Linked DNA regions of Homo sapiens. The protein of the gene in region 6 purifies or fractionates together with the protein of the main gene of each other region. This does not show direct contact. Each region holds a gene or a part of one and is shown on either strand. Other genes may lie near its edges. The genes, in order: COX6C, PPP4R3A, EXOC3, USP34, TNPO3, OCIAD1 and SDHB.

Region 1 (3,500 bases), on a different chromosome or scaffold from region 6:
GACAAACACACGAGAAAACTATAGGCCAAATCCTTTAACACAGATGCAAAAATCGTCAACAAAACACTAGCAAACCAGATTTGACATCGCATTAAAAGAATCATGTACTATGATTAAGTGGGATTTATCCCTAGGATGCAAGGATAGTTCAACATATGCAAATCAATAGATGTGACATACCACACTGACAGAATGAAGGATAAAAAACACATCTCAAAAAATGCAGAAAAAGTACTTGACAAAATTCAACATCCTTTCATGATCAAAACTATCAACAGAAGGAATGTACTTCAACCCAACAATGGCCAAAAAGGACAAGTCTAGTATACTGAACATGGAAAACGTGAAAGCTTTTCCTCTAATACCTAGAACCAGACAAGGATGCCCGCTCTTGCCACTTCTATTCATTGTAGTACTGGAAGTCCTAGCCAGAGCAATGAGGCAAGAAGGAATAAGCAACATCCAAAAAGGAAAGGAGTAAGTAAAACTATCTGTTTACAGATCATATAATCTTACCTCCAGCAAACCCTAAAGATTTCTAACACACAAGTGTCAGAATACATGAATTCTACTAAGTTGGAGGATACAAAAATCAGCTCTTTCTACACACCAACAATGAAGGAAATAAAGGAATGCCTAATAAAGGAAATTAAGAAAATAATTCTATTTATAATAGCACCAAAAATAATACTTAGGAATGTATTTAATCAGGAATATGAAAGACTTAAACACTGACCTAGATGAAACAGATATATACCTGTATACTGCTAAAAAAATTAGCAAATCTCATTCATGCAATCCCCATGGTAACCACAAAGAAAATACAGAATATACACATAAGGAAGTAAGAAGGAAACTGAAACATGTCACTATAAAATAAAGGAAAAGTACGGAAAGAAATGTGTGTCCTTGGACACATTGTTTTGATTATAGTAGTCTCCTTTTATCCAAGGTGATATGTTTCAAGACCCTTCCAGTGAATTACTGAAACTATGGATGGTACCAAACCCTATACAGCTACGTTTTTTCCTATATATACACATACCTATAATAAAGCTTAACTCATAAATTAGGCATAGTAAGAGAGTAGCAACACTAAAAGAAATTAAAGATGCAAACTACTGCTAAAAGAAATTAAAGATACAAATAAGAGGAAAGACATCCTGTGTTCATGGATTGGAATACTTAATATTGTTACGATGTCCATACTACCAAAGTAATCTACAGATTTAATGCAATCCCTATCAAAATCCCAATGGCATTTTTACAGAAATAGAAAAATCCATCCTAAAATTCACAGACTCTTAAGGAACCACAAATAGCTAGAGCACCCTCCGGGTGGGGTGAAAGAAAGAACAAAGCTAGAGGACTCACACTTACTGATTTTAAAGCATACTACAAAGCTACAGTGTAGCAGTCATCCCTTATTTGTGGTTTAACCTTCCACCGCTTTAGTTCTACCCACAGTCAACTGTGGTTCAAAAACAGGTGAGTACAGTACAGCAAGATATTGAGAGATCACATTCACCTTTTATTACTATACACTACAATTGTTCTATTTTGTTATTGTTGCTCATCTCTTACTATGTCTAATTTATGAGTTAAACGTCATCATAGGTATGTACGTACACGAAAAACAACATAATATATACAGGGTTTGGTACTATCTGTGGTTTCAAGAATCCACTAGAGGGGTCTTGAAACATATCTTAGATAAAACGGACTACTGTAATCAAAACAGTGTAGTACTGCCCCGAAGACAGACATACAGACTAAAGAAATAGCCCAGAAATAAACTCTCGCATTTAGAGTCAAATGATTTCACCAAGGTACCAAGACCACTCCATGGAAGAGGACAATCTTAAATGATTTCGGGAAAACTGGATACCACATGTAAAAGAATACAGTTGGATCTTTACACCCTACACAAAAATTCAAGTGAATCAAAGATCTAAACATAAGAGCTAAAACTATAAAAGTCTTAGAAGAACACATAAAAAAGACTTCATGACATTGGATTTGGCAATGATTTATTGAATATGACACTAAAAGCACACAGAACAAAAATAAAAATAAATTCGACATCAAAATTTCTGTGCATCAAGGGACACAACAGAGTGAAAAGGCAACCTATGAAATGGGAGAAAATATTTACAAATCATATCTGATAAGGGGTTAATATCCAGAATATATACAGAACAACTCAACCAATAAACAAAAAACCAAATTTGAAAATGAGCAGAACTGAATAAACATTTCTCCAAAGATAACATACAAATGGCCAATAAGTACATGAAAAGATGCTCAAGAACACAAATAATCAGGGAAATGCAAATCAAAACCACAATGATACCACCTCATACCTATTAGGATGGCTACTATCAAAAAATACCAAAATTATGCCAGGCACAGTGGCTCACGCCTGTAATCCCAACACTTTGGGAGGCCAAGGTGGACGGATCGCCTGAGCCCAGGAATTCAAGCACAGCCCAGGTAATATGGTGAAACCCTGTCTCTACTAAAAATAAAGAAGTTAGCCAGGTGTGGTGGCACATGCCTATAGTGCCAGCTTCTTGGGAGGCTGAGGCAGGAAGATCCCTTGAGCCTGGGAGGTTGAGGCTGCAGTGAGCCATGATCGCACTACAGCACTACGGCCTGGGTGACAGAGGGAGACCCTGTTAAAAAAAAAATTAACAAGTGTTGGGGAGGATGGAAAGAGTGTAAAATGGTGCAGCCACTATGGAAAAGGGTATGGCAGTTTCTTAAGAAATTAAAAATCATATGATCCAGGAATTCCACTTTTGAATATACCCCAAAAGAATTGATAGCAAGGCCTTGAAGGAATATTTGCATGCCTAGGTTCACAGCATCACTCACAACAATCAAAAAGTGGAAGCAACCCAAGCATCTACTGATGGATGAATGGATAACAATGTGACACAACTAAAATAGATCATTCAGCTTTAAAAAGAAAGGAAATTCTGACACATGCTGTAACATGGATGAACCTTGAGTACACTACGCTAAGTGAAATAAGCCAGTCACAAGAAAACAAATACTGTGTGATTCTACTTATGAGATGCCTGGGGTAGCCAAATTCTTAGAAAGTAACACAGTGGCTGCCAGGGTCTGAGTGGAGGTGTGAATGGGTTGCTTAATGGATATAGGGTTTCAATTCTGTAAGATGACGAGTTCTGGAGACTGGTTGCACAACAATGTGAATGAACTTAACACTACTAAACTGTACAATTAAAAATGGTTAAGATGGCAAATTTTATATTATAGATGCTCCTTAACTTACCATCAGGTTACATTCTGATAAAACCATCATAAGTTTAAAATATCTTAAGTTGAAAATGCATTTAATACACCTAACTTACATCATAGCTTAGCCTTCCCTACCTTAAATGTGCTCAGAACACTTATGTTAGCCTACAGCTGAAGAAAATCATCTAACACAAAGCCTAGCTTATAATAAAACACTGAGTATCTCACACAAC
Region 2 (3,500 bases), on a different chromosome or scaffold from region 6:
CACACACACACACACACGTTGTTTTTTATTCTTTGATGCCTGTGGTATTGTAAGAATAATAGGTCTTTGGGAGACTGAGGTGGGTGGATCACTTGAGGTCGGGAGTTCGAGACCAGCCTGACCAACATGGCAAAACCTCGTCTCTACTAAAACTACAAAAATTAGCCAGGCGTGATGGTGGACACCTGTAATCCCAGCTGCTCAGGAGAATGAGGCAGGAGAATCGCTTGAATCCAGGAGGCAGAGGCACATGCCTGTAATCCCAGTTACTCCAGAGGCTGAGACAGGAGAATCATTTGCACCTGGTAGGCAGAGGTTGCATTGAGCCAAGGTCGCACCGCTGCAGATAAGTGTAATATGACTTGGAAGATCTTTTAAGACTTTACCTCAGGTGTATAAGTAAAATTTATTTGAAACCTGAATTTGTTAAGTATAGAAAGGAAGACAATAAATGTAGTAAGAGCTGCCTGGTAGCACACATTACATATAAAGCAGTATGTTTAATCATGTCTGTTCCTGTTTAGAAAATTTTGTATTTCTAAAATATTAGCCAGTGATAGGCAAAAAAAGGAAAAGTATGAACTAAAATACTGAGTTCTCCTGATCCTTTTCTTTAGCTCCATATGGTTCTGTTTTTGTTATGTGGGGATTTGTCACTTCTGTGTTTTCTTGGTCTTCATACATGTAAAATGCCAGTTTTATTCATTAAGTATGAATAATTTCAAGTTGTTAAATCTTTGCTTCCCTGTAATGTGCTTTGTAAAATACTGGCTGCCAATATGTCTGTTTCTCTTGATGCTGGACACTTCTATCCAAAGTGCTGCTGTGAAGGCTGTAGCATTTTACAAATGTTTTGGCAAGAAGTGATTGAGGTACAGTTTAATGCAGGTTCCTGCCCACTTTGTATAGCCCCATGCACACAAAATAAATATCACACCCTCTTAACATTGACTGCTTCCTTTGTAGTACCATAAACATTCTTATTTTCTCTATTTCTGTACCCCCAACTGCAGCAGTTCAGAGAATGTCTTTTTTAACCATTTGATACCCATTTGGTAGAATATAGTATATTGGAGATGTGTCTTGAAATTGGATGCCATTTGGGTAGCAAACATGGTCAAGATCATATTAATGAGGTATGACCTATTTGTTCATTTTAGAAAAAGTAAAGGTGAGAATAACCAAACTAACTTAGTGCCACAGAAGATTTTTCTGGAGCACTCACAACAGTGAATGTGGAGCCAGTAATCTAGTGGGAGCTTGTATATACATCCATGTGTATGTGTATTTAGAGTGAGGCATGTCTAGGGCTTAAGTGGTATTGAATCTACTTCCACTAGCTGAGGTAGTAATTAAAATCTTGGTCGAGCATGGTGGTTCATGTGCGTAATCCCAGCACTTCAGGAGGCCCAGGCCAGTGGATTGCTTGAGGCCACGAGTTCAAGACCAGACTGGCCAACATGACAAAACCCCATCTCTGCTACAAGTACAAAAATTAGCTGGGTGTAGTGGTGTGTGCCTGTAGTCCCAGCTGCTAAGGAGACTGAGACAGGAGAATTGCTTTAACCTGGGAGGCGGAGGTTGCAGTGAGCCGAGATGGCACCACTGTGCTCTACCTGGGTGACAGAGCAAGACTCTGTCTCAAAAAGCAAAACAAAACAAAAGCCAAGATCTTGATGAAAAAATAGTGATGAGAAACATTGACCGGACAATCATGAAGGCTCTGCCACCTTAATTGGGCTTGGGTAAATTTTAAAATCCAAGTCTCAATTATAAAATGAGGAAGTAAAACAAAAAGTTCTAAATTTTGCTTTTTAAATAATTGAGTCATTCTCTGTATCTTTAAAACACTAAAGTAGCTTTGTCTTCATTTTCATTCTCATTTGAGAGGTTGTAGAACTACCTTTTAAAAGTTAATAAGGTTATAAAACCTATGAAAGTGAGGGGTCAGCAAGTGTTGGTCCTGCTATTTTTGTAAGTAATATTTTATTGAAATACAGCCATATCCATTCATTTCCAGTTGTCTGTGACTACTTTCATATTACTGGAGCAGGGTTGAGTACTCGTAGTAGAGATCACATGGGCCGCAAAGCTCAAAATATTTACTACCTGGCCTTTATATAGGCTTAGAAAATAGAGCCTTGACAAAATTTTATACTTTAATAGTGTGGTTTTTCCTTCTGTTAAAAAAAAAAAAAAAGACAGCATTGCCAATACCACCTTTCCTTTTTATAGTTATTGCTGTGTATATTAAAGCATTCCTGAAATTATATTTTAGGACAATCTTAGCATTAACATAATTGCATTTGTCCTTTGTTTCACAGGAAGATGAAAAATTTCTGACAGATTTGTTTGCACAACTAACAGATGAAGCAACAGATGAGGAAAAAAGACAGGAATTGGTAAGAAATTAGATACTATGAAAGGCATAAAAATAAAACAACTGGCCGGGCTTGGTGGCTCACGCCTGTAAATCCCAGCACTTTGGGAGGCCGAGGTGGGTGGATCACGAGGTCAGAAGTTTGAGACCAGCCTGGCGAACATGGCGAAACCCCATCTCTACTAAAAAGTACAAAAATTAGCCAAGCATGGTGGCGGGCACCTGTAATCCTAGCTACTCAGAAGGCTGAGGCAGGAGAATCGCTTGAACTCGGGAGGTGGAGGTTGCAGTGAGCCAAGATCGTGCCATTGCACTCCAGCGTCGGCAACAAGAGCAAGACTCCGTCTCAATAAATAAATAAATAAAATAAACTTTTTATATCACTTATCCTTTTTTCTAATTTCAGGTTAACTTTTTAAAAGAATTTTGTGCGTTTTCCCAAACGCTACAGCCTCAAAACAGAGATGCTTTTTTCAAGACTTTGTCAAACATGGGCATATTACCAGCTTTAGAAGTCATCCTTGTAAGTTTTGTGTCTCCTCATTTTTAATTACCATTTTTTAATCCCAAAATTAATATTTTTAATGCTACATGCAAATATTCTATTATAGCCAATATTTGAAATTAGCTGCGTAGTTCATTAAGTTAAAGAAGCTGTAAAATTCCAATATTAGACAGTTTTCACACAGTATTGAAAGAATGCAGTAAAGGAATTTCCCATAATTTAATGATAGTTTGTCAGCTTTGCAGCTTATTAGCTGAAATGTTAAAATAGGCAAACAAATAAATGATTTAGAAAGTATAATTTTATCCGTACAATAAGAGTTTTATATGCAGAAGAATTTCTTTGACCTTTCTTTTACATTGAAGTTTTTTCATATGTTTTGTTAGGTTTGGATATTTACATAGCTATAGGTTCCGTATTTTTATAAATACAGGAAAAATAAATGTTTTTTGTCTGCAGGGCATGGATGATACACAGGTGCGAAGTGCTGCTACTGATATATTCTCATACTTGGTTGAATATAATCCATCCATGGTACGAGAGTTTGTCATGCAGGAGGCACAACAGAATGATGATGTAAGTAAGAAGTTAACAGAGCAAAAAATAACCAGCAAG
Region 3 (3,500 bases), on a different chromosome or scaffold from region 6:
ATGTGGTCCATCCATACAATGGAATATTATTCAGCCTTAAAAGTGAAGGAAATTCTACAATACCACAGCATAGAAGACCCCTGAGGACATCATGCTGAGTGAAATAAGCATGTCACAGAAAGACAGATAATGTGTGATGCCACTTCTATGAGGTCTTCAGAGTCATCCAATTCACAGAGACAGAAGGCAGAATGGTGGTGACCAGGAGCTGGGGCAGAGGGTGCGAAGTCAGTGTTTAATGGGTACAGATTTTCATGTCTGCAAGATGAAAAGAGTTCTGAAGACGGATGTGGCAATGGTTGCACAACAATATGAATGTTCTTAATAGTCCCCAACTGTACACTTAAAAATGGTTAAGACGGCAAACTGTACATATGCATTTTAGAAGAAGAAAAAATGGGGGAGGGGAGCTGTGTACACAGCATTGCTGAGTTATAGGCAATGAGACAAGTCTGAAGGCAACCAAACCAATCTTCTCAATGAAAATTTATCCGTAACAAAAAACATGCATACCACGCAGGCTCATTTGTTCACCAAGGAAAGGAAATTATTTTCAACTGCTGTGGATAAACTAATTCCAGTAATGCACCTTTTTGGTCATCAGGCATTAGTTTAAAAGACCGGAAGGAAATGTAGCCAGCCAATACGAAATAAGAGGAAATTAACTAGAAAGCTGCCAGCTGAGCATCACCAAGGAGACTCCGTCGAGAGGACTTTATTCCTGTTCCAGGCGGCCCACAGTCACCAAGAAGAGCTGCTTTCTGAGTTGGCAGCACAGTGGCGTTCGTGTTGGGCATGCACAAAGAGACACGGACTGCAGCCACACATGTGACCCTACGGATCATGCCCTGGAAGAAGGGCACACACAAAGCAACGGGACAAGGTGCTCGGCAATGCTGCAGCCGCAAGCACGAGAGGAGGGCAGAGAGGACAGGGTGGACGGGACACGGATTACCAAGGTGCGCTGTGGGCAGCTGGGGAGAACCGCGCCAATTCACACGTGGCCTCAGGAGCCGAGCAGCGTCACAGATGATGCAGCACAGCCACTGTGAAGGGTGAGCTGGGGCACGTGACGGCTGGGGATGGGGAAGTGTCATACAGACATCAGGGCAGAGACGTCTGGTAGAGGAACAGGAAGAACTTGCCAAGAGGCCAGAGACAGGAACAAAGAAAGGGAAGGAATCAGACCCTGCCAAGGCTTCTGAGTTGGGGACTGGAAGGATGCTGCTGACCTTGACACAGAGCGGGGACCAAGGGGAGGGATGAGGCTGTGGAAGCAGCTCCTGTCACAGCAAGCAGGAGGAGACTGTGAACACAAATGCTGGGAGCCACCACCCAGGGCCAGCTGGCACCGTTCAGGGACAGGTTACAGGGCCCTTGGCATCCTTCTAACTGAGGCATTCAGGGAGAAGACTGAAAGGGTCACTCCCCCACGGCGCTCAGCCCCGCCTCTGCCCTGGCCTGTGCACACACGCTTCTCCTCCTGCCTGGGAGCTGCTGCTCGCCTCAACCCTTCTGCTCTGGGATCTGCTTGCTCTGTCCCATGCACAGGGTGGCTTCTCCTGCAGCTCCTTTTAAGCATGGGCCACGGCGTCTTCATTCTTCTGCACTCACAGAGTCTAACAGCCACATCGCAAGCAAGGGAACGACACTCAGCCAGGGAATCCCTCCACACTGCATTTGCTGGGCAGCCCGCTTCTGGGCCTCTGTCCTGACACTGAACTACAAGCCTTCTCCTAGCCTTTACATGCTCAGCTGATCACTTCCATCCACGTTCAAAAAAAGACGCTGAGCAGACAAGAATCACACTTACCGTCTACAGGTCTACAGTGCGGGCTGCAAAGCACACTGCACACAGAGCACTCAGTGAGTCATGCAAAGACAGCGTGAGTGGGGGCAAGTGCCTCGGCGTCTGGCTGGTACCTGAGAAGATGTTCTTGAGGTTCTCCACGGCTGCGGCGAGCTGGCTGTGCTGCACCACGGCGTCTTTGACGTCCTTGAGGCTCTCAATGGTGTTGATGCTCTGCCTCCAGTCCTTGCTGACGTCTGCCAGCGACTGCTGGATGTCTTTGACGTCATTCAGGGCGTTGTGGAGCTGGCTGAGGCCTGTGCGCACCCCGTCCAACTGTGACTGGATGGCGGCCTAAAGAGAGACGCCACACGGGTGAGCAGAGCCAATGATAGCCATGCGCTGCCTCCTGAAGAACAAATCTTCCCCAGGAGGGTCAAGTTCAGGAAAGAGCCACTGAGTAGCAGGAAACAGTCAATACCCAGAAAAGAAAATAAAATCAACAAGGATTTAATTGATTCACAGTGTACCTTTTTCTTCATTGCTGCCTGGGAACAGAACAATGATGCATTTTAAAGCCTTGATGAGAAAAGGTCAGGACACTCCTCATCTAGCCTCACACCTGGTGATCCTGGACACTACCACGGGTCTGCCCTGGGCCGTGGCCTGCTACGGTACCTTCAGAAGGATGTCACCCATGCTCTCCCAGGCATCCTAGGTTCCTAAAAGGTCTTGTCTAGGCAGAGAGAACGGTCAGGACTTCACTGGCTTGGGGTGGGGGAGTTCCTGCTGTTCAGCCAGCACCACACTTGGCCCCAGGACGGCTGACCCACAGGACAGAATCGGCACCTGAGCTTCAGATCCGCTCTCTGTCAAATGTGAGTTAAAACAATCTGAACAAAATGCCCTCTAGTGGTGCTCTGTAGAAGAGCTTTAAATAAGACTACTTCTCCTTCCTCCAGTATTGTTTAAAAACTTAATAGACACTTTCAGGGTGTTGTTTTTGTTTCTGTGTTTTTTTTTTCTTTTTGAGACAGAGTCTCACTCTGTTGCCCAGGCTGGAATGCAATGGCACCATCTCGGCTCACCGCAACCTCTGCCTCCTGGGTTCAAGCGATTCTCTTGCCTCAGCCTCCCAAGTAGCTGGGATTACAGGCGTCAACCATCATGCCTGGCTAATTTTTGTATTTTCATAGAGACAGGGTTTCACCATGTTGACCAGGCTGGTCTTGAACTCCTGACCTCAGGTGATCCGCCTGCCTCGGCCTCCCCGAGGTGCTGGGATTACAGGCATGAGTCACCGCACCCGGCCTCAGGGTGTTTAAAAGCTTGTTCCTTTGGTGTTTTCACCATTCCCACTGTCTTCTAAGCAAAGCTACTGAGTGGTAATACACTGCTGAAAGTAACTGCTCAAGAAAGTCCAGCTCTGCCTCCTTGCACATTACCATAAAGGCTAGTTTAGCAAAATCATCATGGTGATGTCAAGCAAGAACCTGAAGCCCAAGACAGATCCTGGGAGTGGGGCAGGTGGCCTCACCTTCAATCTGGCCTCCACGGAGGCCTTCTTCCGCGCTTCTCTCCTGCGATACTGCTCCACCTTGTCCAGCTGGTCCGGGCGCTGGAGCATCCCAGCAACCCTTTGCACTGCTGTCGCAACGGCCTCCCGGTCTGTCTCCTTCATGGTGAAAAAGCTGGTGGAATCCTCACACTG
Region 4 (3,500 bases), on a different chromosome or scaffold from region 6:
ATTTTATAGACTCATATGCACATGTCAGGAGAGGACTGCTCTTCTAACACATACTTGTCAATGAACTGAAACCCCCAGCTTCTTATTTTTCAAAGCAAAAAACTGACTTAAGTACCATTTTCATGAAAATTTCTAATAGATAAGGACATTCTACAATAAAAGACATTACATTTCACTGATGTCAAGGGCAATAAATAACATGGAGGGATAAATTCTAACTCATCTAGTACTTGTCAAAGTATATTTAATTCTGGACATCACATCTAGTAACTAGATCAAATATTATTTATGTGAATATGATAGAGACAAATTTACTGAAACTTAATAAATCCTATCCCGACCCCTTTGAAGTCAGAAAGATTGATATTTTGTATTCTTATGGCATTGGTTTTCAATTTCTTGGTACTTGTACACTCACTCTCTTTCCTGCATTGTAGGGATTCTGATTTTTTCTTTTGAGACAGAGTCTTGCTTTGTTGCCCAGGGTGCAGTACAATGTCTCAATGCAGCCTCAACCTCCTGGGCTCAAGCGATCCTCCCACCTCAGCCTCCCAAGCAGCTGCGACTATAGGTGCACACCACTACTCCCAGCTAATTTTGTATTTTTTGTAGAGATGGAGTTTTGCCATGTTGCCCAGGCTGGTCTTGAACTGCTGGGCTCGAGTGATCCGCCTCTGCCTCCAAAGTGCTGAAATTACAGGTGTGAGCCACTATGCCGGCCTGGGATTCTAATTTTCTCTGACTAGAAATTAGGTTATTCTTCCCAGGTGTGAGATTCTATACAACTCATTACACCATCTAGAAAAAAAAAGACCGTCTATAAAGGACGGTCTGTCTTTAAAGTACAGTTTACAACAGAGAATAAGAGGCAACAGTGAAAAGTTATTAACCAGGTTTGACAGCTTTACATCGAGGGGAGGAAACTTAATATAAAACCTACAAGTAAGTGTGCAGAGTAAAAGGGACCCAATTTAGACTGCATATATATGTATCTCGATTGATCTCTTAAGCATTTCATTTGTTTGGATGCAGCTTGAGAAAAAATACTGCGGAATACTACTAGTTTTAGATATAAAATTGTCTAGCTCACAGTTTACCACAGCATGTAGATTTTGCTAAGTATCTGATTTTTAAATAGCAAAGTACTCAATTCCTTAAAACTGTACCATGAAGCTGGCTTTTTTCATTAGGCACACATGAAGAATACATTTACAAAACCACAAATTAAAAAACAGGTAAGTTTTACTGGATATGCAACTTTAACTTCACCCTAAGAAAAGTTATCTACACAGTTATCAATTTTATAACAACACAGCATTTTATATATGTATTTAAGAAAACAAATACACATTAAGTTCTTAAGAAAGAATGGTGAGACTATTCTATATTCTGCCACCACTTCCCACCAGGGGAAAAACAGGTATTTCCAATCTATTTGAGGATACAGATAAAAGAGTATCAATTTTACTCACTCCAGGGTATTGGCTGGCATGTGGTGTAAGATTCTTAAAGGCCCACTGGATGTTCTGGTGAGAAGCCAGTTGTCGTGTGAATGCAGGAGACTGCTCACAGCAGAGCCTCAGAATGCCATAGTACGCTGGCAGCATCCCACGGTTAAAAAGCACCACATCCTGATCATCATGGTCAGCAAGGATGTAATTGAAGGCAATGTTCTTGGTTACCACTGGGTTCTGAACAATAAGGCGGATATTCTCTGGACAGTCAGCACAGACATTGTACCAAAATGAAAGCAAAGCCTGTTTATTGTGATTTGTAGCTATTGCTGGCTCAGAAAGTTTAGGCTGGAAAAGGTTCCACAAATCCATGAAATATGTGGAAAACATCAGCTTCTCAGTTTTGGAAATTAAACAGTAAGTCATAAAGCTAAAATAGGGCACTAGCTTTGTAGTGCCATGAACAGCAGCATCAACATAAAGTTTGGCTCTTGAGAGCAAACCAAGGAGCACGTTGTAGACCTGATGTAGGACTACTGTTGTGTCTGGACTGAGTGGAAGGTCACGGGTTGGGATGTGCAAAGACCTTGTTGACCGGAACATCTGACGGAATGAATTGCTTGGTATAAGGGACACCAGAAGATAAGCTGCAGCTATAAAATGTAAAACAAAACTGTCAGATCCTTGTAAGATATAAAATAGACTGAACAGCAGTCATTAATCACAAAGCCACTGTTCCCTTTAATAATTAAAATGAATAAAAAGGGACATGAACATCTCTTTTAGTATCTTTCTGCTTTCCCCTTGGCCCCACAAAAAGATCCCAAGAGGTGATAAAAATAGATACCTTCTATTCTGCCATTGTTATTTTTGAAGTGGCAATAATTTTTAAACCACTTTTCTTTAGCTTGCCTAAGATGCAGAATTTTCCCACTTTATCTTTTATTTCTTCTCAGGAAGTAGTATGATTTAACAGAGGGAACCCAGCATTTGCAGTCAGAAGACCTACCAAAAGGTACCTGAGGAGGTCAAATCATTCAATGTTCTACAGTCTTAGTTTTCTTCTTAATTGAAAAATAATGATAATTTACTTTGTAATAACATACAGATATGGTAAAATATACTTGTTATAAAGAAAGAAATAGATATACATAAAAGTTCAATATATAAGATTACATATATGCTAATTATAGAACATTAACTTTGGAAAATCTTTAAAAGTCTTCTAAGGCTAACCTTACACCAAAGGAAAGAACTGGGTGTTAAATTGTAACCAGATAATATATATTTAAGTTATAAAGAAAGAATGAGATATACATAAAAGTCCTATTTGATTACATATATGCTAATTACAGAACATTAACTTTGGAAAATCTTTAGAAGTCTTTTAAGGCTAAACTTACACCCAAGGAAAGAACTTGGTGTTAAACTTATTAAGCCTATGTTATAATGCTGAGGAGTTAGTGACTTATTAGTTGCGCTAACCTGTAAAAGCAGTTACTATCAACAAAGCATTGACCTAGGTGCTGTATAAACTTCTCATTTAATCCTCACAATGACCCTGGATGGAGGTAACAGTGCTCTGGAAAATCTGAATCTTGGAGAAGCAAAGACCAAGGTCACACAGATAAAGAGGTGGAGGCTAGATTTTGCCTTGAGAAACAATGATGATGATAATGATAATGGTAAAACAATAATAGTAATAACTATAATAAGAATTGTGAGCCTTTACCAAATGTATACTATTTGACGTCATAACTTTATGTGGCAGGCATTGCATTTATTATCCCCACTTTCACTCAGGCTTACAACAATGGGACTATCTCAGCTTACACAGCTAGTGGCCAGAGCTGGGATTCAAATCCAGCCAATCAGATTCACAGGCTAATAATGCTCCTAACATTCACTATGGAACCTCCTCAAGACTCTCTAATGTCTGAGTTTGGGTTCTTTTCAGGACAACCATTATTTGTCTCCCCCTATTCTAACTATAACTTGATAATTTCCATTGTATTGTCAAAGCAAACAAAGTTAGGGTTTCTAAAA
Region 5 (3,500 bases), on a different chromosome or scaffold from region 6:
GATCAGATTCTCATTACAATCTTTTTCTTTTCCCAGCTGTGCTTTTCTTCTTTGTTCCTTTTGTACTTATTGTAATAAATATTTGGCAAGTCTGAATGCTGTGGCATTTCTGAAAAAGCATTTCTTTTAAAATCACTGTTTTGTTTTAGGCACTGTGCATCCCCACCTTTCAGCTCCTAGAACAGCAGAATGGTCTCCAGAATCACCCTGACACTGTAGATGACCTGTTCCGGCTAGCCACCAGGTAAATCCTTCTGAAGAGCCCATTTCTTAATTGCTCATCCTATCACTGCTTAGTCTTGCCATCTGACCCTTGGTTGTTTTATTCTTGTAAAATGAAGTCACTGGAGTAAGTAGATTAATGATTCATAACCCAAAGGTAAATTGCAAGCTGATATATCCCCAGCAGTGACGCAGAGTATTGCGGGAAGCAAGGGATAAAGGAGCTGAGTTCCTGCCAGGAAGGAGGGCTCACACACAAGACAATGCAGTGTGCCTGGCAAAACACTTGACTAGATCATCTCTACAGTCCTCTGTAGGTTTTAACTGTTCGTGCTGTTGCGATTTCATGTTTCACCTCAACCTTCTCTTTGAGAAGCTTAGCATCCTTTAGATATAATCAGTTTCGGAATAAAGAATGTTTGGGATTTTAAGATGCCTTAGCAGTTATCTCATACTGTATTTCTCAGCTCTACTCACAGCCTACTTTATCAGTAGCACTGATAATATGATTGCCAAACTTCTGCTTGAATTCCTTAGTCCCTAACTAAGGAATTTGAACCAAAACTGTTACCATATCAGCATTAAAAAAAAAAAAAAAAGAAAAATCATTATTTTCGAAACAACAAAAGCCCAACTGTTATATCATTTACAAATGCAAAGTAATGTTGACTTGATTGTTTCATCTTAGGATTGATTTTTTTTCTTTTTTCTTTTTTGAGATGGACTCTCACTCTGTTGCCCAGGCTGGAGTGCAATGGCATGATCTCGGCTCACTGCAACCTCTGCCTCCTGGGTTCAAGTGATTCTCCTACCTCAGCCTCCCGAGTAGTTGGGATTACAGGTGCCCACCACCATGCCCAGCTAATTTTTGTATTTTTAGTAGAGACGGGGTTTTGCCATGTTGATCAGGCTGGTCTCAAACTCCTGGCCTCAGGTGATCCGCCCACCTTGGCCTCCCAAAGTCCTGGGATTACAGGCGTGAGCCACCGTACCTGGCAGGATTGAATATTGAACCCTTTTTTTTTGTTAGTTTTTGGATAGGTTAGAAAAACCCTTTTTTTTTCCTTTTCTTTTTTTTTTTTTTTCAGTTGATAGAATTGTTGGATGGGCTGTCACCCTCTGTTTTCTTTTTTTTTTTTTTTTTTTTTTTTTTTGAGACGGAGTCTCGCTCTGTCGCCCAGGCTGGAGTGCAGTGGCGTGATCTTGGCTCACTGCAAGCTCTGCCTCCTGGGTTCACGCCATTCTCCTGCCTCAGCCTCCCGAGTAGCTGGGACTACAGGCACCCGCCACCACACCCAGCTAATTTTTTGTATTTTTAGTAGAGACGGGGTTTCACTGTGTTAGCCAGGATGGTCTCGATCTCCTGACCTCGTGATCCACCCTCCTCGGCCTCCCAAAGTGCTGGGATTACAGGCCTGAGCCACCACGCCCGGCACACCCTCTGTTTTCTTAGGGTATGTATTCCTTGGAAAACTAGTCCCTAAAAATGTTCTTTATACAAATGATGAAACAAGTTTGGAGTATACTGTACCTTTTTCTGAAGAGATTCTCCCTGTATATTAAAGGAACTTAGAAACCTGATAGTAGTTTAAAGGAAAAAATAAACAAGCAAAACTACTTTCAAAATCCAGCAGCATTTCCCAAGCTTACCTGAACACACAACCTTTTCTTTGAGGGATTCCTGTTGACATCCTGGGAACTGGAATTCTGTGAACTTTAGTTTGGGAAATGCTGTTCTAGCATCTTTAGGACTTTTTAACCTAGGAGAGTTTCTACTTGTAGGTCCTTTTGACTGGTCTTTCTTGATTTATAAAATCTTAGTTGGAAATAGGATGTGGTGACACGTCTTTTAATATACTAATCTTAAGATATGGTCCTTTTTTTTTAAAGAGCAACTTTAGGTTCACTGCAAATTTGAGTGAAAAGTTGCTCCCATATACCCCTCCCTCCTAACACACACAGCCTTCCCCTCTATTAGCATCCCCCACCAGAGTAATACAAACAGTGACCCTATATGAACACATCATTATCACCCAAAGTCCATAGTTTACATTAGGCTTCACTCTTGGTGTACATTCTGTGGGTTTTGACAAATGTGTAATGACATGTATCCACTGTTATAGTATCATACAGAATACTTTCACTGCCAAAAAAAATCCTCTATGTTCTGTCTATTCATCCCTTCTTCCCTGAAACCCCCCACCAACCACTGATCTTTTTTACTGTCTTCATAGTTTTGCCCTTTTACCCTGGCTGCTTTTATAGCCTAATCTTGTCATTTATACCTAGTCTCACTTTCCACACCAGGTTTATTCAGCGTAGCCCTGTCACCTTGCTGCGGAGCCAAGTGGTCATCCCTATCTTACAGTGGGCCATTGCCTCTACTACCCTGGACCACCGGGATGCCAATTGTAGTGTCATGAGGTTTCTACGAGACCTCATTCATACAGGGGTAGCCAATGATGTAAGTATAAAAATGATACCATTTCTACTTAACAGCTTTTATCTCCTATCTCTTTGTCATTCCTTAGGAGAAAACCAGCATCCCAGTATTTCCTTACTTGATCTATATTGGTAGACATATATCATAGTGGATCATTCACTAGCCAAAATATCAACTAAGACACTTGTGCTGGGTGCTTTAGGCTATATAAAGCAGTCTAAAACTGTTCATGCTCCCAAATCATTTGGTGTCTAGTTGAAGAGAGAAACAAGTTTAAAGAGTTAAGTAACAACAAGATGCCAGTGTTTGGTGTTTTTCATTTGTTTTTGAAACAGGGTCTTGCTCTGTCGCCTAGGCTGGAGTACAGTGATGTGAATCTCAAGGGATCCTCAGCTACTGAGTAGCCAGGACTACAGACATTCAACACCATGCCTGGCTAGTTTTTATATTTTTTGTAGAGATGGCATTTCACCATGTTGCCCAGGTTGGTCTTGAACTCCTGGCCTCAAGTGATCCTCCCACCTTGGCCTCCAGTATTTGATTGTCAGATGAGTGATAAAAGTCATGATTGGTATGAGATCAGACGAGGGAAAGCTCTAGACCAAAAAGAGTTGGAATAACTTTATGGAAGGGGAGGGATTTAAATGAAGCCATGAATTAGAGGTAGAATTTTGATGGATTAGAGAGGCAGATAGTCATACTGCCTCTAAGCCAAGATCAGAGCAAGTCAGAATAGTACTAAGTTTGTTAGTAGACAACTAAGCAGTGGGAGTAGTAAAGTGCTTCACAGGAATTTCGAAGGTAGGTTTGATTAGATGTGGAGTAGAATTGTAGA
Region 6 (3,500 bases):
CATGTAATTTCACACGTAATGAAATATTCTTTTCCTTTGATTTCTTAACCATTTTATCTTATTTTATGTTTTTAGACAAAGTCTCACTCTATCACCAAGGCTGGAATGCAGTGGTACAATCTCATCTCACTGCAGCCTCAACCTGCCGGCTCAGATGATCCTCCTGCTTCAGCCTCCCAAGTGGTTGGGACTACAGGCATGCACCGCCATGCCTGGCTAATTTTTTGTCTTTTTTCTTTTTTTTTTTTTTTTTTGTAGAGATGAGGTTTCGCCAAGTTGCCCAGGCTGGTCTCGATCTCCTTGGTTCAAGTAATCAGCCCACCTCAGCCTCCCAAAGTGCTGGGATTACAGGCGTGAGCCACTGCACCCAGCCTCTTAACCATTTAAAAATGTAAAAACAATTCTTAGCTCATGCATACAAAAACAGATTTGGTCCATGGGCTAGTTTGTTCAACTCTGGTCTAAACCATATATGGACAATTTAAGAACCAAAGTAATTAAGACATTTGAATTATTACAGATTTCATGATTAAAATCCATCACTTTGGAATAGGGCATTAACTTTGCCATCACACACAAATTGCACAAACGCTAAGGTCTGAATTCATGCTATCCTACTTACTAACAGATTTTACCTTTGCTGGAAATATGGTTTCTTTAATGTTGGCTAGTTAGAATGCCTTCATGCATTATCATTTATCATTTAAGGTTTTGCAAAGGACAAATCCCTTTTAATTACAGCACCAGTACAATTTGCAATCATTTTTCTCCAGCTTGACTCAAGGATTGCAACATGAAGCACTGAAGAATCATATAAGAATAAAAGGCAATGAGTTAGCTGGCCATTTCTACAATGGATAATGCTTTCCCCATTTAATGCAGAGTAATAGTCTGTTCGAGGAGATTCTAGTACTAGTTCTGCCATTCACCACAATGTCTTTGCATAGCTTCTTCTCATGCTATAAAGGAATAATGGATTAGACCTAAGGTCTCATTCCAACTCAGGTATTCTACTTTATGTCACAGAAAAAGACAATGGTAAGACTGAAAGAGGCTTCAGAGATTATCTAGTCCTCATTCCAATCTGAGTACACTAATATCCAGAAAAGACAAGTCATTTGCTCAAAGCAACACAGCTGGTTAGTTTGTGGTAATGCTGAGATCAGAACCCAAGTCTCCTGACTCCCTAGTCAGTGGCCTTTTCCACTACAGTATGTAATATCTATTTTGTTAAATAATCTGTCTCTATAGGCAAATCAGTAATACTGCTGACCAAAACCTAGTGCACATTATTACCACAGTCCCAAACTATATTCAATATATACAAGAATCCCTACAATTATTTGAACTCTTCTCCCCTCACAGTAACAAAAAGCTACTCTATATTCCTAACTGTAGTCAATAAAAATTTTTATTTCATTAATCATAATAACACTAATAGCTATTTAATAAAGATAGCCAACACTTAATTAAATTGCATTAATCCCTATAATAATTTCATGAGCTAGGCAGTTATCCCCATTTTATAGATAAGAAAAGTATAGCACAGACCTCAGGAACTTGTCCAAAATCTCACAGCTACTGTGTGTGGAGCTGGGATTTGAATCCAGCCAATCAGGCCTCAGAGTCCATACTCTTTTTTTTTTTTTTTTGAGATGAAGTCTCGCTTTGTCACCCAGGCTGGAGTGCAATGTCACAATCCTGACTCAATGCAACCTCTGCCTCCCGAGTTCAAGCCATTCTCCTGCCTCAGCCTCCCAAGAAGCTGGGACTACAGGCATGTGCCACCACACCTGGCTAATTTTTGTATTTTTAGTAGAGACAGGGTTTCACCATGTTAGCCAGGCTGGTCTTGAACTCTTGACCTCAAGTGATCCACCCACCTCGGCCTCTCAAAATGCTGGGATTACAGGTGTGAGCCACCATGCCTGGCCCATACTCTTATCACTCTTATACTGTATCATTTGAAAACTAGTAGTACACATATATGAAATATTATTCATAGACTCCAGCTGATACAAATATGAACTGATACATCTTTTTAGTAATTCTGGAGTTTGAGAACTATTTTAACATGAATATGCAATAAACTGACCCTATATGCACAGGGTCTTCACTACCTGTGTGTTTGGGCACAGACATAGTGATTTTAGGTCAGTGCATAGGGTCACGATTTTAAGCACCTAGAAATAAGATGCCTTCATAGTTATATTTCAGATTAATGGAATGTAGGTCAGTATAGAAACATAGTTATCTTAAGGAAAGAGAATGGTCCCTAGATCAACAAGTCTAATTTTAGAAGAGGATAAGTATTTTAACAGACCTAAAAAATGTATAAAAAATTACCTTAGTAAGTGCTTTTTTATAAATTCGTAAATGCTTTTATCACCTTTTTCTAATCCAAGGTGATACTCTCCAAAGTAACAGATGCCATTATTTGTTTACATAAATGTCACATACAGCATAGACTATCTAATTCGAAAGTACAAATGTTAAAGTACAAAATTTCCTATGTATGATTATCATCCTTCTGATAATTATACGTTGAACTTCCTATCACCTGGTTACAACCAAGCTTCTACATTTCAATGTTTGATGCTATAATATGCAACAACACCTTGGTTATCTGTTTTGAGAGTGAAATGCTACCTATTAATACAGTAATTTTTTGGCTGCTGTAATTTCTCAGTAATGTAGATATGGTATAAAATTAACAAGCTGTCTTTCAGCCTGTCCTTATCACATGCTTTTTGTCTTTTTTTTTTTTTTTGAGATGGAGTCTCGCTCTGTCGCCCAGGCTGGAGTGCAGTGGCACGATCTTGGCTTGCTGCAACCTCTGCCTCCCGGGTTCAAGCGATTCTCCTGTCTCAGCCTCTCGAGTAGCTGGAATTACAGGCACCTGCCACCATGCTCAGCTAATTTTTGTATTCTTAGTAGAGACGGGGTTTCACCATATAGGTCAGGCTGGTCTCGAACTCCTGACCTCAGGTGATCTGCCTGCCTCAGCCTCCCAAAGTGCTGGGATTACAGGTGTGAGCCACCAAGCCCAGCCGCTTTTTGTCTTTTCAACCTGTGATTTATCTGTTTTAATGCACAGAAATCACTTAGCTTTGTACTGTTCATATACCACATGTCCCACTATTAAGAGTCTGGTATACACGGGCATCCTGACATTGTTCACTACCCTTTAATGTACTTTTGGCATAAACCTGTCACAGCTATTTAGATTGTTAAACACCTGCAGCAGCATACATTTATCAGCCAGAAATAAATCTGGACACCTTAGCATCTATTTAACCGTTAGCCCAACACTACAATAATCCCAAATCCCCTCTATCACACTTGCCTTTTTCTTAATCCTGTGTCATCAAGACTTAAAAATAGATCATTTTATCCTATCTACTCTATATAATCTTCAAAGATTTAAAAAAAAAAAAAAAAAAAAGAACTGTTGCTGGAGTATACAGCCAAGTTCTCTAAGAAATTCTTCCCATTCTGGC
Region 7 (2,406 bases), on a different chromosome or scaffold from region 6:
GTGAGAGGCCCCACGAGGTCATTTGTGGAACTAACTGGATTCACAACTGACCAGGGTCATTGCTCTGTGCTGGAGGAATCTCAAACCTGGCCTCACCGACGTATCCAAAGACTTACCAAGATTTGGTTTTCAGTAATTCTGGTACTGAAAACTATAGAAACTGGGAAGATACAGAACACTAACACTAACTGAGTGTTCAGAATAAGTGCCAGGCATTCTCATACCAGATGAATGAAGTAGGCACAATTATGGATCCCATCTTACAGATGGGCGAATGGAGCAGCAAAGAGGTGAAGGAACTTGTCCAAGGTTGTCTAGCTGGTGAGTGGCAAAGCTGGGAACAAGCTGCAGGCCCTGCTGATGTCAGTTCCACGGCTCATCACCTCCTTCCAGCTAGGGTACCCCCACCCCCGCTCAGCTCTGAAGCCCTGTCCATCTCTCCAAGGACAAGGACTCCTGGCACCTTCACATTCCCCTGCGGCAAGTAAAGGAACAGGTTCTTTTTTTTTTGTTAATAAAGTAGAATAACATTTATTTCTTAAAATTTTTATTATACATGCTGTATTCATGGAAAACCAAGATCTTTAAAGGAACTCAAATTAGATATAAATTATGTTCAGCTCTGAGCTGGTTATAAATCATGTTTAGCATGGAAACAGTTAAACTGAAGCTTTCTTCTCCTTATAGGTTGCCATCATTTTCTTGATCTCTGCAATAGCTTTCCCTGGATTCAGACCCTTGAAAAAAGAGAAAAGAATCAATAACAAATGATAACTGAAACTGAAAGGGAAAACCCACAATCTTGGGTGAAACTCCTTCCTCAGCTGGTTCAGTGTCCAAGCAAGGTGAATGCAAATCAAGTCCCTCAAAACCATAGGGGTTGGGCTAAGGGCTCTCTTCTGTCTACCTTTTTTAACATTTGAAGATGGTCAGCTCCCTCTGGCAAGAGCTCTGCCACGTTGAATTCCTTCTTGTGTGGCTCACTCTAACAGGTAAACAGGCCCAGGGCAGAGGTGCACTCTCTGACTGCTCAAAGACACTCAGGGTAGTGTCTCTTCTAGGACTACAGGCCAATGTCAAAATCAGCCAGACATCTCTAAATCTTTTACATCATCATTATTAAATAGGCAGCAGCAGAAATCAGCATATACCAGCTCTCAAAAGTATGTGGAAGAAACTACCCTCTCTATTAACCCTTTGTAAAACCATGATGATTTCAACTGGCCAATACCATTGGTATTAGCTGCAGTTTGCCCCTACAGCTGTTAACATCTGCTTTGCAGGAGGCACAATAATTAAACCCACTGAATGCCAGCTTCATTGAAGTAGAAAGTAGGAAGTACTTTACCAAGTACTTGCTTTTACCAAGCAAGTACTTGGTAAAATGAGACAAGTACTCATCTGACGTTAGTGAAGGTTCCCCTCATTTTAGAAGGATAAGTCTACCCCCCTAAAAAAGTGTTGTGGAAAGAAAGAAGAAAAGGAAAGAAAGAAAAGAGATCTTGAGAGAAGAAGAGAAAGAAAAAATATATATTTTTTTGACAGGGTCTTGCTCTGTCATCCAGGCTGAAGTGTGATCATAGTTCACTGTGGCCTGGAACACCTGGCTCAAGTGATCCTCCGGCCTCAGCCTCTCAAGTAACTGAAACTACAGGTGCGTGCCACCACACCTGGCTAATTAAAAAAAATTTTGTTTGTAGAGATGGGATCTCACTATGTTGTCCAGGCTGGTCAAAAAGACACTCTTCATATACCAACATGGGATAATCTCCAAAATATAGTGGGTGAAAAAATACAGATAAATGTGATATAAGAAAGACAGAAGAGGACACATATGCATTTGTGTGCAGCATAAAACACCTCTGAAGTTCACACAAGAATCTGACTTCTAGGGAGGTGGCTGGGTGGAGTGGGAGGGAGAATTTTCACTGTATATCCTTCTGAATCTGGATCTACCTGTGTATTTCCGGTCCCCACAGGGTCAGTAAGGGTGTTTAGACTTAGAAGGTTGGTACATACCCAATCCATGCAGGAAGAAAGAGCACTGGATGGGGAGGCAGACGGCCTAACTCTAGTCCTACCTTCCCACTGACCTGACAGTGATCTGGGGCGAGTCACTCCCCTCCCCACCTGGGGCTCAATTTCCCCATCTGTATAAGGGGATTAAACTTGATGGTTTTCAAGTCCCTTCCAGTTTCATGATCGGCCTATGTCTATGTCTCAGTCCCAACTTCCAGCCCTGTTTTACAGAAGGGAGGGCAAGGCACAGAGAACCTGTTCTTGGCTGTCTCAGTTGTCTGCTGCACCCATCCCCTCCATGCACAGGTTTGTGACCAGGAATGCACCTTAGAGTCACTCGCAGAGCTTCTGAAGAAACACACAGCCAGGCCCCACCACTGAAGATGC

Evidence for each region.
Region 1: the proteins of OCIAD1 (region 6) and COX6C purify together in Homo sapiens (affinity purification with mass spectrometry; 2 studies listed by BioGRID and IntAct, with this or other methods). This does not show direct contact.
Region 2: the proteins of OCIAD1 (region 6) and PPP4R3A purify together in Homo sapiens (co-immunoprecipitation; 2 studies listed by BioGRID and IntAct, with this or other methods). This does not show direct contact.
Region 3: the proteins of OCIAD1 (region 6) and EXOC3 purify together in Homo sapiens (co-immunoprecipitation; 2 studies listed by BioGRID and IntAct, with this or other methods). This does not show direct contact.
Region 4: the proteins of OCIAD1 (region 6) and USP34 purify together in Homo sapiens (co-immunoprecipitation; 2 studies listed by BioGRID and IntAct, with this or other methods). This does not show direct contact.
Region 5: the proteins of OCIAD1 (region 6) and TNPO3 purify together in Homo sapiens (co-immunoprecipitation; 2 studies listed by BioGRID and IntAct, with this or other methods). This does not show direct contact.
Region 7: the proteins of OCIAD1 (region 6) and SDHB purify together in Homo sapiens (affinity purification with western blotting; 2 studies listed by BioGRID, with this or other methods). This does not show direct contact.

Annotation. Positions count from the first base shown.
Region 1 is NC_000008.11:99,883,708-99,887,207, forward strand, and holds part of COX6C (cytochrome c oxidase subunit 6C), read right to left. Parts: intron 1-3,500. UniProt on the Homo sapiens protein: Component of the cytochrome c oxidase, the last enzyme in the mitochondrial electron transport chain which drives oxidative phosphorylation.
Region 2 is NC_000014.9:91,475,811-91,479,310, reverse strand, and holds part of PPP4R3A (serine/threonine-protein phosphatase 4 regulatory subunit 3A), read left to right. Parts: intron 1-2,324; coding exon 2,325-2,402; intron 2,403-2,786; coding exon 2,787-2,903; intron 2,904-3,344; coding exon 3,345-3,500. UniProt on the Homo sapiens protein: Regulatory subunit of serine/threonine-protein phosphatase 4. May regulate the activity of PPP4C at centrosomal microtubule organizing centers.
Region 3 is NC_000005.10:446,176-449,675, reverse strand, and holds part of EXOC3 (exocyst complex component 3), read right to left. Parts: 5' UTR 3,471-3,500; coding exon 3,327-3,470; intron 2,856-3,326; exon of another isoform or gene 2,468-2,855; intron 2,338-2,467; exon of another isoform or gene 2,284-2,337; intron 2,144-2,283; coding exon 1,924-2,143; intron 1-1,923. UniProt on the Homo sapiens protein: Component of the exocyst complex involved in the docking of exocytic vesicles with fusion sites on the plasma membrane.
Region 4 is NC_000002.12:61,212,588-61,216,087, forward strand, and holds part of USP34 (ubiquitin carboxyl-terminal hydrolase 34), read right to left. Parts: intron 2,108-3,500; coding exon 1,473-2,107; intron 1-1,472. UniProt on the Homo sapiens protein: Ubiquitin hydrolase that can remove conjugated ubiquitin from AXIN1 and AXIN2, thereby acting as a regulator of Wnt signaling pathway.
Region 5 is NC_000007.14:128,971,612-128,975,111, reverse strand, and holds part of TNPO3 (transportin-3), read left to right. Parts: intron 1-149; coding exon 150-244; intron 245-2,529; coding exon 2,530-2,686; intron 2,687-3,500. UniProt on the Homo sapiens protein: Importin, which transports target proteins into the nucleus. Specifically mediates the nuclear import of splicing factor serine/arginine (SR) proteins, such as RBM4, SFRS1 and SFRS2, by recognizing phosphorylated SR domains.
Region 6 is NC_000004.12:48,837,588-48,841,087, reverse strand, and holds part of OCIAD1 (OCIA domain-containing protein 1), read right to left. Parts: intron 1-3,500. UniProt on the Homo sapiens protein: Maintains stem cell potency. Increases STAT3 phosphorylation and controls ERK phosphorylation. May act as a scaffold, increasing STAT3 recruitment onto endosomes. Involved in integrin-mediated cancer cell adhesion and colony formation in ovarian cancer.
Region 7 is NC_000001.11:17,018,222-17,020,627, forward strand, and holds the end of SDHB (succinate dehydrogenase [ubiquinone] iron-sulfur subunit, mitochondrial isoform 1 precursor), read right to left. Parts: intron 738-2,406; coding exon 660-737; 3' UTR 501-659; downstream 1-500. UniProt on the Homo sapiens protein: Iron-sulfur protein (IP) subunit of the succinate dehydrogenase complex (mitochondrial respiratory chain complex II), responsible for transferring electrons from succinate to ubiquinone (coenzyme Q).